Regions from separate parts of the Homo sapiens genome. Here region 2 is linked to region 1. Evidence: fine-mapped QTL for protein levels in blood plasma. A gene starts in region 1. The other region holds a variant in brackets. All regions are shown on one strand. Distances are from middle to middle.

Region 1 (5,369 bases):
CACATGGGGAGAAACCTTGGACAATACCTGGCTTTCCTAGGCAGAGGTCCCTGCGGCCTTCCGCAGTGTTTGTGTCCCTGGGTACTTGAGATTAGGGAGTGGTGATGACTCTTAAGGAGCATGCTGCCTTCAAGCATCTGTTTAACAAAGCACATCTTGCACCGCCCTTAATCCATTTAACCCTGAGTTTGACACAGCACATGTTTCAGAGAGCACGGGGTTGGGGGTAAGGTCACAGAATCTCAAGGCAGAAGAATTTTTCTTAGTACATAACAAAATGGAGTCTCCCATGTCTACTTCTTTCTACACAGACACAGTAACAATCTGATCTCTCTTGCTTTTCCCCACACTAACACGGTGAAACCCCGTCTCCACTAAAAATACAAAAATTATCCGGGCGTGGTGGCAGGAGCCTGTAGTCCCAGCTACTTGGGAGGCTGAGGCAGGAGAATGGCATGAGCCTGGGAGGCGGAGCTTGCAGCGACAGAGCGAGACTCCGTCTCAAAAAACAAACAAACAAAATTCCTGTCAAGAATCTGATGAACAGTTATTTTATTTTATTTTTTATTTATTTATTTTTTTTGAGACGAAGTCTCGCTCTTCTCCCCAGGCTGGAGTGCAATGGCGCGATCTCGGCTCACTGCAACCTCCACCTCCTGGGTTCAAGCGATTCTCCTGCCTCAGCCTCCCAAGTAGCTGGGATTACAGGCGCCTGCCACCACACCGGGCTAATTTTTGTATTTTTAGTAGAGACGAAGTTTCACCATGTTGGCCAGGCTACTCTCGAACTCCTTACCTCAGGTGATCCACCTGCCTCGGCCTCCCAAAGTGCTGGGATTACAGGCATGAGCCAACGTGCCCGGCTGATGAACAGTTATTTAAAAATATTTGAGCAAAGAATAAAAAAGGGCTGAGCGCGGTGGCTCGCACCTGTAATCCCAACACTTTGGCAGGCCAAGGCGGGTGGATCACTTGAGGTCAGGAGTTCGAGACCAGCCTGGGTAACATGGAGAAACGCTGTCTTTACTAAAATTACAAAAATTAGCTGGGCGTGGTGCTGCACACCTGTAGTCCCAGCTACTCGGGAGGCTGAGGTGGGAGGATCACTTGAGCCTGGTAGTTTGAGGCTGCAGCGAGGTATGATTGTGCTACTGCACTCTAGCCTGGGCAACTGGAGTGACACCCTGTCTCAAAAAAATAAAAAACAGAAAAGTAAAAAAGGCAGAACTGTTCAGCTTCATTGCTCAGTTCACCAGGAGAAACATTTTTTTTTTAAAGTGGTTTCAAGAGGATTTCCTCATGGAAGAAGCATTTCAATAAGGGGACCGTTGAACAACAGAACTAATGATTTTTTTTTAACGTTAATATTTATTTTGAGATGGAGTCTCGCTCAGTCGCCCAGGCTGGAGTGCAATGGCGTGATATCGGCTCACTGCAACCTCCGCCTGCTGGGTTCAAGCGATTCTCCTGCCTCAGCCTACCCAGTAGCTGGGATTACAGGCGCCCGCCATCATGCCCGGCTAATTGTTGTATTTTTAGTAGAGACAGGGTTTCACCATGTTGGTCAGGCTGGTCTCGAACTCCTGACCTTGTGATCCGCCCACCTCGGCCTCCCAAAGTGCTGGGATTACAGGTGTGAGCCACCACGCCCTGCCATATTATTATTATTTGAAACAGGAAGTTTCTCCTAGGGCTGTTTTATGGATGGCTCTTCCTGAGGATATCAAAGCCGCATTTTCCCCAGGACAGAATGGGATGAGGGCATGGCAGGGAAGAGAGGAGCTTAGCCTGGGAATCTGACTGGGTAAGGGGTGGGAGAACTAAAAGGGGAAAAGCAAAAACAAAACTCTTGAGAAACACGTCCTGGGGACTCCTTGGCTCTCGCTGTCACTGTGTGGTCCCAGCCAGTTCACTGGAGAACCGGAGTCTCGTGGCTGCTTTGGCTGAAAGTCAGGGGATCATCTTTCTCTGGCTCCCTTTTGCAGAGGGTAAGGAAAGGAAGCGATGGCGGCCTTGGCGCCCGCCCTGCGCCCAGGGACACAGACCGGAATCCCTCGAGACGCTCAGCGGGGACTGCCAGGGGGGTCCTGCGTTCTGCAGCTTGGCAACCGCTTCCTCCGGGTTCTGCAGCCCGGGGCAGCGGCGGGGGTTGCGTCCTGCGGCAGCTGCAGGGCTCCGTCCCGCCCGCTGTCCCCGCGACTCGGTACTGCTGTCCCGGGCGGAGTGGACTGGGGAGGGCCCAGCCTCCGCGCCCCGCCCCTGGCCCGGCGGGACCCGGCTCGGCGCGCCCTCGGCAGAAAGCCCTCCTCCCGGGCCAAGGTAGAGGAAGTTGGGCTCCCGCCTGGCTGGGAGGCGGGAGGGATCCCGCTCCTGTTGTTTTCCGCCGGCAGGAGTAGGCTGGCGGGCGCAGGGGGCGGGGTGCGCCCTCCCTCCCCGGCCAGGGCGCTCGGGAGCGGGGACCCGAGCCTGCAGCCGAGCTCCGCTGCCGGCCCTGGACACTCGGCTCAGCCAAGCATCCTTCCTGGGGGCCGAGGAAGTGGGGCCACTCTGCCGTTCCGAGGACCTGGGAGGAGCCCTCGGTACCCCGGGCCCCGGGGCCCTGGGGCACACACGTCCAGCCCAGCCCGAGCCTGCGTTTCCTGAGCCGGGATCTGGGGCGAGATGGCCGCAGGCGGCAGTGCGCCCGAGCCCCGCGTCCTCGTCTGCCTCGGGGCGCTCCTGGCCGGCTGGGTCGCCGTAGGTAAGGGGCCGCGATCTGGAGGGAAAAGTTGAGTTTTCCCAGTCAGCGGTGGGGAGGGGACAGCGAGAGACCCAATTCCCTCCGACTCCGCCCGGATCCGTGGTGGCCCCAGCCTAGAAGCTGCCCCAGGAGGGTCTTGGTTTCCTGCTCGCAGCTCGGCCGTCTTTGCAGGAAGGAGTTTTCCCGGGCGCCCGGTGCGGGGCGAGATACCCCCAGCCTCCTGGGGTGGGCAGCCGGTGAGGCTGCAGAGGAGCCGAGCCGAGCCGACGTGCGGGGGCAAAGTAAAGAGGCACGTGTGCCGGGAAAGTGATTTTTTTTTTTAAGCGTCGGATGTAAATTCGCGTTCTGGTTTTAGTAGTAACTGATACGCTGGTGCTCAAACTCGAGACTCCCACTTTATTTTTCTCCTCCCTCTGCCCAAGGTTGAACTCGCCTTACACCTGTAACCGGTGGACTTCCCTACACACCTTTGCAAGTCTTCCTGTGCCGACCAGCGCCTTCAAAGCGGGGTCTTCCGCCTTTACTTTTGGAAAAGCTTTTTATTTTGAAATACTTGGCTGACTTACAAAAGACTTCCCCTCACACTTGACATGATTGACAAAAGGTCTGAAATGCTTCATCTATGGTCTGCTTTGCTACGAAAAAAGAATTGGAGGGGTGCTTACAAAAATATGTAGAATGTAAAAAGATTGAACTATTTATATATATTTGAATTTAATTCACCAGCATGCCTACTGTGCATGCCTACTGTGTGCTGGGAGTGTGACAAGCTGGGAGGAGGCTGGGGTGCAGGGAGAGGAGATGGAGCCAGGAGGTGGTGAAGTTTGCCAGGATGCAGGCAGAGCGCTACTTTTTGTGTTCCCGGGTCTGCTCCACCCAACGGGTCTCCTCTTGCACGTTTCTGGAGATGGGTTGTAAAGTATGCTGGAGCTTCTTAGCAGCAAGTGCCAAGAGTTCCTAATTATTAGGCTCATACAATTTTATTTTGCTTTTTTTTTTTTAACCAACCATTTAAAAACAATAACATCTCTAGATTTCCAGTTTATCTGGAAAAATCTGAAGGTCTGGCAACACGGGGCCTGCTTTCCCAGTTGGAATTGGGCAGTGGTCATCCTCTTATCTAGGGCATATGAGCCCAAATTTGTTCCACCTCTCCCTGTTGTAATATTTGCCCCGCCACCTTCAGTCATGGGTGTTACCTGCTGGCCCTGCAGGCATTTGGCTGAGTAATCACTGTGCTGGGGTGTGGGTGATGGGGGAGGACAGTTCCTAGTTGGTCATCTCTGGACGTGAAAGGTGGTTGTCAAGTATTCCCATCTCCCCAGCTGTTTGCAGTGTTTCCTGCACGATGAACACCAGGAACCTGGGAAGTGAGAAGAACCCTGGGATGAAGTCATCCTGCTGGAATGACCTGGCTTTCAGGCTGACTGCCACCCGCCCCATGGGGAACCTATCTCCACTGCTATGGCCAGCTATTTTTTTCGAGCCAGGCTCTCGCTCTGTTGCCCAGGCTGGAGTGCAGTGGTGCAATCACTGCACTGATCCTCCCACCTCAGCCTACAAGTAGCTGGGACTACAGGCGTGCACCACCACGCCTAGCTAATTTCTAAAATTTTTTTGTAGAGACGGTCTCTACAATCGCTTGAGCCCAGGCTGGTCTTAAACTCCTGGACCCAAGCGATCCTCCTGTCTCGGCCTCCCAAAGTGTTGGGATTATGGGTGTGAGCCACCGTGTTGGGCCTTTGCCCAGCTATTTTGATGCCCAGACCTGCTTCACCTTTGTGTATGATGCCAGGGGGCTTCCTGAGCTTGGTGTATTTTTGTTGTGTGTTTGTTTTTTAAGTTGGGAGTTTTTGGGGAAAAAAATTTTTCTCCTGACATTCAATGCCAGACAACTTATATGCATCCACTAGCTACCCCGGATTGTAAATCCTAGGTTATTCTTGGGAAAAGTTGCTTTAAAAAAATAAATAAATGTTTGGGTATAACTCCTACTCTGTAAATAATAATACATGGGCAGCATCAGGGAGTTTATATTACTCCCTCTTCGGTTCTCTATTGTACATTTAAGGTTGGGGGGCAAGAAGGACCCTCTGGACACCATATGAATGACTTCTAAACTTGTTACTATATTTTATCATTGCATCCTGTCTGGTGCAGGAGACCAGAGTAACGTGACCTGAGTGACAATCCCACATCTCCCAGTGATTTGCTTGGGACTTTAAGTGATAACTTAATCTTCCTAAATCTCAATTTTCTCAGTAGTAAAGTGAGGAGGTTTAGGACTGCCAGGCAAGAACTACCCCTTCCATGTCTATGTCAGACATCACTAAATCGATGACTGTGTTCTTTTCCACTGAACCAGGACTCAATCTCATCTTCAACCCAGCCCACAGGGCAGCCACATCTCTGGACTAGATGATCTCCAAGGGCACCTTCAGATACAGTGGTTTAAAAAAGAACGGAGTAAGCCAAACCAGGAGAAGTGAAATGTCTTCAAATGGTTTCTTTTGTGATCATGTCATTCTATGCCTTGGAGGAGAAAACAATGTTAGCTCAAGTTCCAAGACTAAAGTTTCACCACGGCTTTTTTCCAAGCCACTGTTCCTTTATTTCTTTGCCAAGGAGT
Region 2 (5,369 bases), 32 kb after region 1:
TTACCCAGCCCGAGGTGATCATCCAGCCTAGCAGCCGCCATCTCATTACCCAGGATGGCCAGAACTCCACCCTCACTATCCACAACTGCTCCCAGGACCTGGATGAGGGCTACTACATCTGCCGAGCTGACAGCCCTGTAGGGGTGAGGGAGATGGAAATCTGGCTGAGTGTGAAAGGTGAGTGGTGGAACTGGGCCTGAAGGAGGGAGGGTTCAGAGCTTCAGAGCACCCAGCATCAGCATGAGGACAGCCTGGTGCCTCCCTACACATGGGTCACTGCCAACTGGGAGAAGGCATATCTGCTTGCTTATGACTTGACAAGGTGGCTGGAAGAAATTATCCAACCCTAAACTCACTAATATTTCCATAGGTAGCAAAAATTACATAATATCTATACACACCAACGAATAGATATCTAGTGTATGTCAGTTGTAAAGCATAACAGCAAAATGAACACCTAAGAAACTATCATCCCACTGAGGATACAGAATAGTACCAACATGCATTAGGTTACTTGTATGTCTCAGGGCCAGATTTGGAAACAACGATAGGGCTGGGCACAGTGGCTCACGCCTGTAATCCCAGCACTTTGGGAGGCCGAGGCGGGTGGATCACTTGAGGCCAGGAGTTTGAGACCAGCCTGGCTAGTATGGTGAAACCTCGTCTTTACTAAAAATACAAAATTACTTGGGAGGCTGAGATGGGCAGATCACCTGAGGTTGGGAGTTCGAGACCATTAGCTGAGCATGGTGGCAGGTGCCTGTAATCCCAGCTACTCGGAAGTCTGAGGCAGAATTGCTTGAATCTGGGAGGCGAAGGTTGCAGTGAGCCGAGATCACACCACTGCACTTCAGCTTGGGTGACAGAGCGAGAATCCACTTCAAAAAGAAGAAAATAGCAATAGAACTTTAAAAACAGGATGCCTGCTTAAATTTGAGTTTAGAAAAATAAATACTTTTAAGTATAAGTGTGTCCCAAATATTTCATGAGACATACTTACACTAAAAAAACTATTCATTGTTTATCTGAAATCCAAATTTCACTGGGCATACTGAATTTTACCTGGGAACCCTCCCTGTAGGCCTAGTCTCATCTTGGGCCTCTCTCGAAAGGTAACCATGGTCCTGAATTTTAAGTTTTACTATATATGTCTCTACTTATTTCTTTTTATTTTATTTTTTATACAGATGAGGTCGCACTGTGTTGACCAGGTTGGTCTTGAACTCCTGGCCTGAAGTGAGCCTCCCATCTCAGCCTCCCAAAGTGTTGAGATTGCAAGCATGAGCCACCACACCTGGCCTCTTTCTTCCCTTCCCTTCTCCCTTTTCCTTTCTCTTCTCCCTTTTCCCTTTCCTACCTTCCTTCTTTTCTTTCCCTCCCCTCCCCTCCTCTTTCTTTCTTTTTTTTTTTTGAGACGGAGTCTTGCTCTGTCACCCAGGCTGGAGTGCAGTGGTGCGATCTCGGCTCACTGCAAGCTCCACCTCCTGGGTTCATGCCATTCTCCTGCCTCAGCCTCCCAAGTAGCTGGGACTGCAGGCGCCCGCCGCTGTGCCCGGCTAATTTTTTGTATTTTTAGTAGAGATGGGGTTTCACTGTGTTAGCCAGGATGGTCTCGACCTCCTGACCTCGTGATCCGCCTGCCTCGGCCTCCCAAAGTGCTGGGATTACAGGCGTGAGCCACCGCGCCCGGCCCTCTTTCTTTCTTTGAGATGGAATTTCGCTCTTGTTGCCCAGGCTGGAGTGCAATGGCGCGATCTTGGCTCACCGCAACCCCCGCCTCCCGGGTTCAAGTGATTCTCCTGCCTCAGCCTCCCAAGTAGCTGGGATTACAGACATGCACCACCACACCTGGCTAATTTTGTATTTTTAGTAGAGACGGGGTTTTAACATGTTGGTCAGGCTGGTCTCGATCTCCCGACTTCAGGTGATCCGCCCTCCTCAGCCTCCCAAAGTGCTGGGATTACAGGCATGCGCCACTGCGCCCGGGCTCTAGTACCAATTCTTAAATAGTGCTTCCTTTGCTCAAGACCCTGTCATATATCAATTATACTTACGTGTGGACCCGTTCCTGGACTCTCTGTTCTGTTCCGTTGATCACTCTGTTTATCATGGCATTGATAACTCTCAACACTCTTACTTACCATGGCCTTAGAAATAGTCTCAGTGTTTGGTAGACAGAGAGATTTTAACTTTCCATTGTTTGTTCACATTCCCTGCTCCATCTGATCCCCACAAACTCTCTGAGGTTGGGTGATAAAATATTTATCTGGCATTACAGACAGGTCATAAGCCTTACCCAAGGTCAGGAATCAAGACAAGAACTGGATCCACGCAGAGAAAGGGAGGTGTTGTTCTAATTGCACACATATCTGATGGAAGAATCAATGGTGTGATTTGTCTTTACAGAACCTTTAAATATCGGGGGGATTGTGGGAACCATTGTGAGCCTCCTTCTGCTGGGACTGGCCATTATCTCAGGGCTTCTGTTG[C/T]ATTATAGCCCTGTGTTCTGCTGGAAAGGTAAGGACTCCCTGGGTCCTTTAGCTTCTCTTCCAGACTTTTGAAAAGGTGCGGGATGGGGAAGGATGGCCCCTGCCTTGCTCCCACCTGAAGTTCTGTTCTCTGGGCTTCTTTGCTGGGTCAAGATACACAGTAATAAGTCACCTAAGTACCATCCCGGGACACCCTATCACCTGTCATATTGAGTCAGTTTTCTTATTTGTTCCTCTAGTAAATGTTTGCCTGATTAAGAACCTGTCAGGTTGAAGTGGATGTTACTGGATATTAATGGTTTTTCCTTTCTCTCTTCAGTAGGAAACACTTCCAGGTGAGTGTTCCCTAGAATCAAACCAAACACCCATTCCCGCATCTGTCTTCACTTCTGTTTTGTTCCCTTCCTTTCACAAGAACAATAATAGCAACTACCATTGAGGACCTACGATGTGCTAGACACTGGCCTAGGGATTTCATCAGGTATTCTTATAAACCCTTTCATCATCTCCTCAGGGTGGTGGTGACATCTCCATTTTCCAGATAAGGGGATGGAGGCTCAGTGAAGTAATTTCTGCAAGCTCATTCCAGAAGAAAGCAGCAGTGCCTTCCTTCAGGTCCAGGTCTAATCAATTCCAAAGTCTGTGTTCTTTTACAGCGCCAAACCTCAGGGCTGGACACATTGCAGGTCTGTCATTGAGACAGAAAGACAATGTGTACATTTTGAGCCAGTCATTCATGCATTTGTTTTATTTAATTTTCTAAAAAGAGCTAAAAGAAAGAATCAGTCATAGTCTTAAGTTTTTTTTTCTTTTTCTTTTTTCTTTTTTTTTTTTTTTTTGAGACAGAATCTCTCTCTCTTGCTCAGGCTGGAGTGCAGTGGTGCAGTCTCAGCTCACTGCAATCCCTACCTCCCAGGTTGAGGCCATTCTCCTGCCTCAGCCTTCCGAGTAGTTGGGATTACAGGTGCGCACCATCAAGCCTGGCTAATTTTTGTATTTTTAGTAGAGACAGGGTTTCACCATGTTGCCCAGGCTAGTCTCAAACTCCTGGCCTCAAGTGGTCTGCCCGCCTCGGCCTCCCAAAGTGCCGGGATTACAGGCACGAGCCACTGCACCCAGCCAGTTTTACAGTGTTTTGGAAGACTACTATGAGCATGCCCAGAACCCCCTCCCAAAAGGAAACCCCAGTAGGGGCGAAGGAACCAAACGGAACTTGTGTATTTCATTTCCTAAGGAGATTCTGGGTGGGAGCAGAGTACTCTTCTCTATGATCCTATGGAAAAACAGTTCTTTACCTCTTCAAAATGACAGGATATTATTGACCTGGGACCATCTTTCGTAGCAAAACATTACCTTTACTGCCCTGTATTGGAGGGCCATTCTTAGTAAGTCTGTCATTCCCTGGGCTTATTTCTCACTGGAGGCATCAGTGTGGTGTAGTAGGAAAAGGCACTGAGACCATTGGACCTGGGTTCAAATGACAGCTGTGCCATTCCCAAGCCCTGTACCCATAGAAAATCCCTGACCCTTTCTGAGCCTTAGTCTCCTGATTTGTTTCACCAGGGGGTTTGTGAAGATTAAATGACAATGTAACACAGCTCCTCGGGCAGGTGACTGACCTGTGGCGTTCATTCTTCTTCCTTAAGAAATGCATAGTCCAGGCCGGGTGCAGTGGCTCACGCCTGTAATCCCAGCACTTTGGGAGGCCGAGGCGGGTGGATCACCTGAGGTCGGGAGTTCGAGACCAGCCTGACCAACATGCAGAAACCCCATCTCTACTAAAAATACAAAAAATTAGCCGCATGTAGTGGCGCATGCCTGTAATCCCAGCTGCTTGGGAGGTTGAAGCAGGAGAATTGCTTGAACCTGGGAGGCAGAGGTTGCGGTGAGCCATGATTGTGCCATTGCACTCCAGCCTGGGCAACAAGAATGAAACTCTGTCTCAAAAAAAAAAAAAAAAAGAAGAAGAAGAAGAAGAAGAAATGCACAGTCCAGGCCGGGCACAACAGTGGCTCATGCCTATAATCTCAGCACTCTGGGAGGCCAAGGTGGTTGGATCACTTGAGGCCAGGCATTCGAGACCAGCCTGGCCAACATGTTGAAACCATGTCTCTACTAAAAATACAAAAATTAGCCAGATGTGGTGGCGCATGCCTGTAGTCCCAGCTACTTGGGTGGCTGAGGCAGGAGAATTGCTTGCACCCAGGAGGTGGAGGTTGCAGTGAGCCAAGATTGCGCCACTGCACTCTAGCCTGGGCAACAGCGCAAGACTCTATCCCGAAAAAGAAAAAAAAAAGAAATGTATAGTCTGAAATGCAAAGTCTGGCTGGGTAGGCAAGCTAGTGAGCTGGTGATAAATAAACTATAGCATGGACTCTAAATGCAGTCATTAATTTAGGTCTTTAGCAGGAGGGAGAGGACTTTACCTGGGTCTTCCAAAATGAGGAAGGGGAGAGATTTTGGTAAGTAGAGCAGAATGAGGGCATTTCAGAAAAGGAAAAACATTTGTCTACCTGCTGTAAGGGGACATGAAATGGTAGATGCCTGGGACAATATGGTCACCTGCCCAAGGAGCAGGGGAGTAATAAACCAGCATGAGATACCATCATCTGAAGCAATTTGTGGCAGCATCTCTGCGGTTACCACACCATCACCTCATTACTTCACCAAGCTGTAATTTTCCATATTACTAATGGGGTTGCAAAGAATCTAGTGTTTCCTATTCAGTGAGGGCTGAAGTTGGGAAAAATAAGAAATCTTCTTGATTATTTTTCCCCTTTGGAAATTAGGGGACAAAACATGGATGATGTCATGGTTTTGGTGGATTCAGAAGAGGAAGAGGAGGAGGAGGAGGAGGAGGAGGAAGATGCTGCAGTAGGG

Which allele goes with the higher level. Positions count from the first base shown, and alleles are read on the strand shown. Strength reflects both the effect of a copy and how common the allele is.
For the plasma level of the protein whose gene starts at base 2,322 in region 1, allele T in region 2 goes with a higher level than allele C (strong association).

What was found. PIP is the chance, under the fine-mapping model, that this variant and not a neighbour inherited with it causes the effect. The UK Biobank Pharma Proteomics Project read protein levels with antibody pairs (Olink). The fine-mapping took linkage between variants from a reference panel, not from the people measured, so its PIPs are less certain.
Region 2: its variant is fine-mapped to the plasma level of the VSIG10 protein (UK Biobank, PIP above 0.99). The variant lies in the coding sequence of VSIG10. If it changes the protein, the assay may bind it differently, which can mimic a change of level.

Annotation. Positions count from the first base shown.
Region 1 is chr12:118,100,964-118,106,332 of GRCh38, reverse strand. VSIG10 (V-set and immunoglobulin domain containing 10) reads left to right here and starts at 2,322. Exons shown (of 9, transcript NM_019086.6): 1 at 2,322-2,740. The coding sequence starts at 2,662. It overlaps LOC124903029 (a long non-coding RNA gene), which reads left to right and starts at 2,751. Exons shown (of 2, transcript XR_007063478.1): 1 at 2,751-3,344; 2 at 4,066-4,728. RefSeq lists an enhancer at 1-587 and a silencer at 2,229-2,478.
Region 2 is chr12:118,068,507-118,073,875 of GRCh38, reverse strand. It overlaps VSIG10 (V-set and immunoglobulin domain containing 10), which reads left to right. Exons shown (of 9, transcript NM_019086.6): 5 at 1-177; 6 at 2,407-2,517; 7 at 2,809-2,824; 8 at 5,279-5,369. The region is part of intron 1 of LOC124903030 (a long non-coding RNA gene); the gene reads right to left. Among named protein-coding and RNA genes, the nearest start is that of WSB2, 10 kb to the right of the region's middle. The variant C/T (reference allele first, on the strand shown) is at 2,490.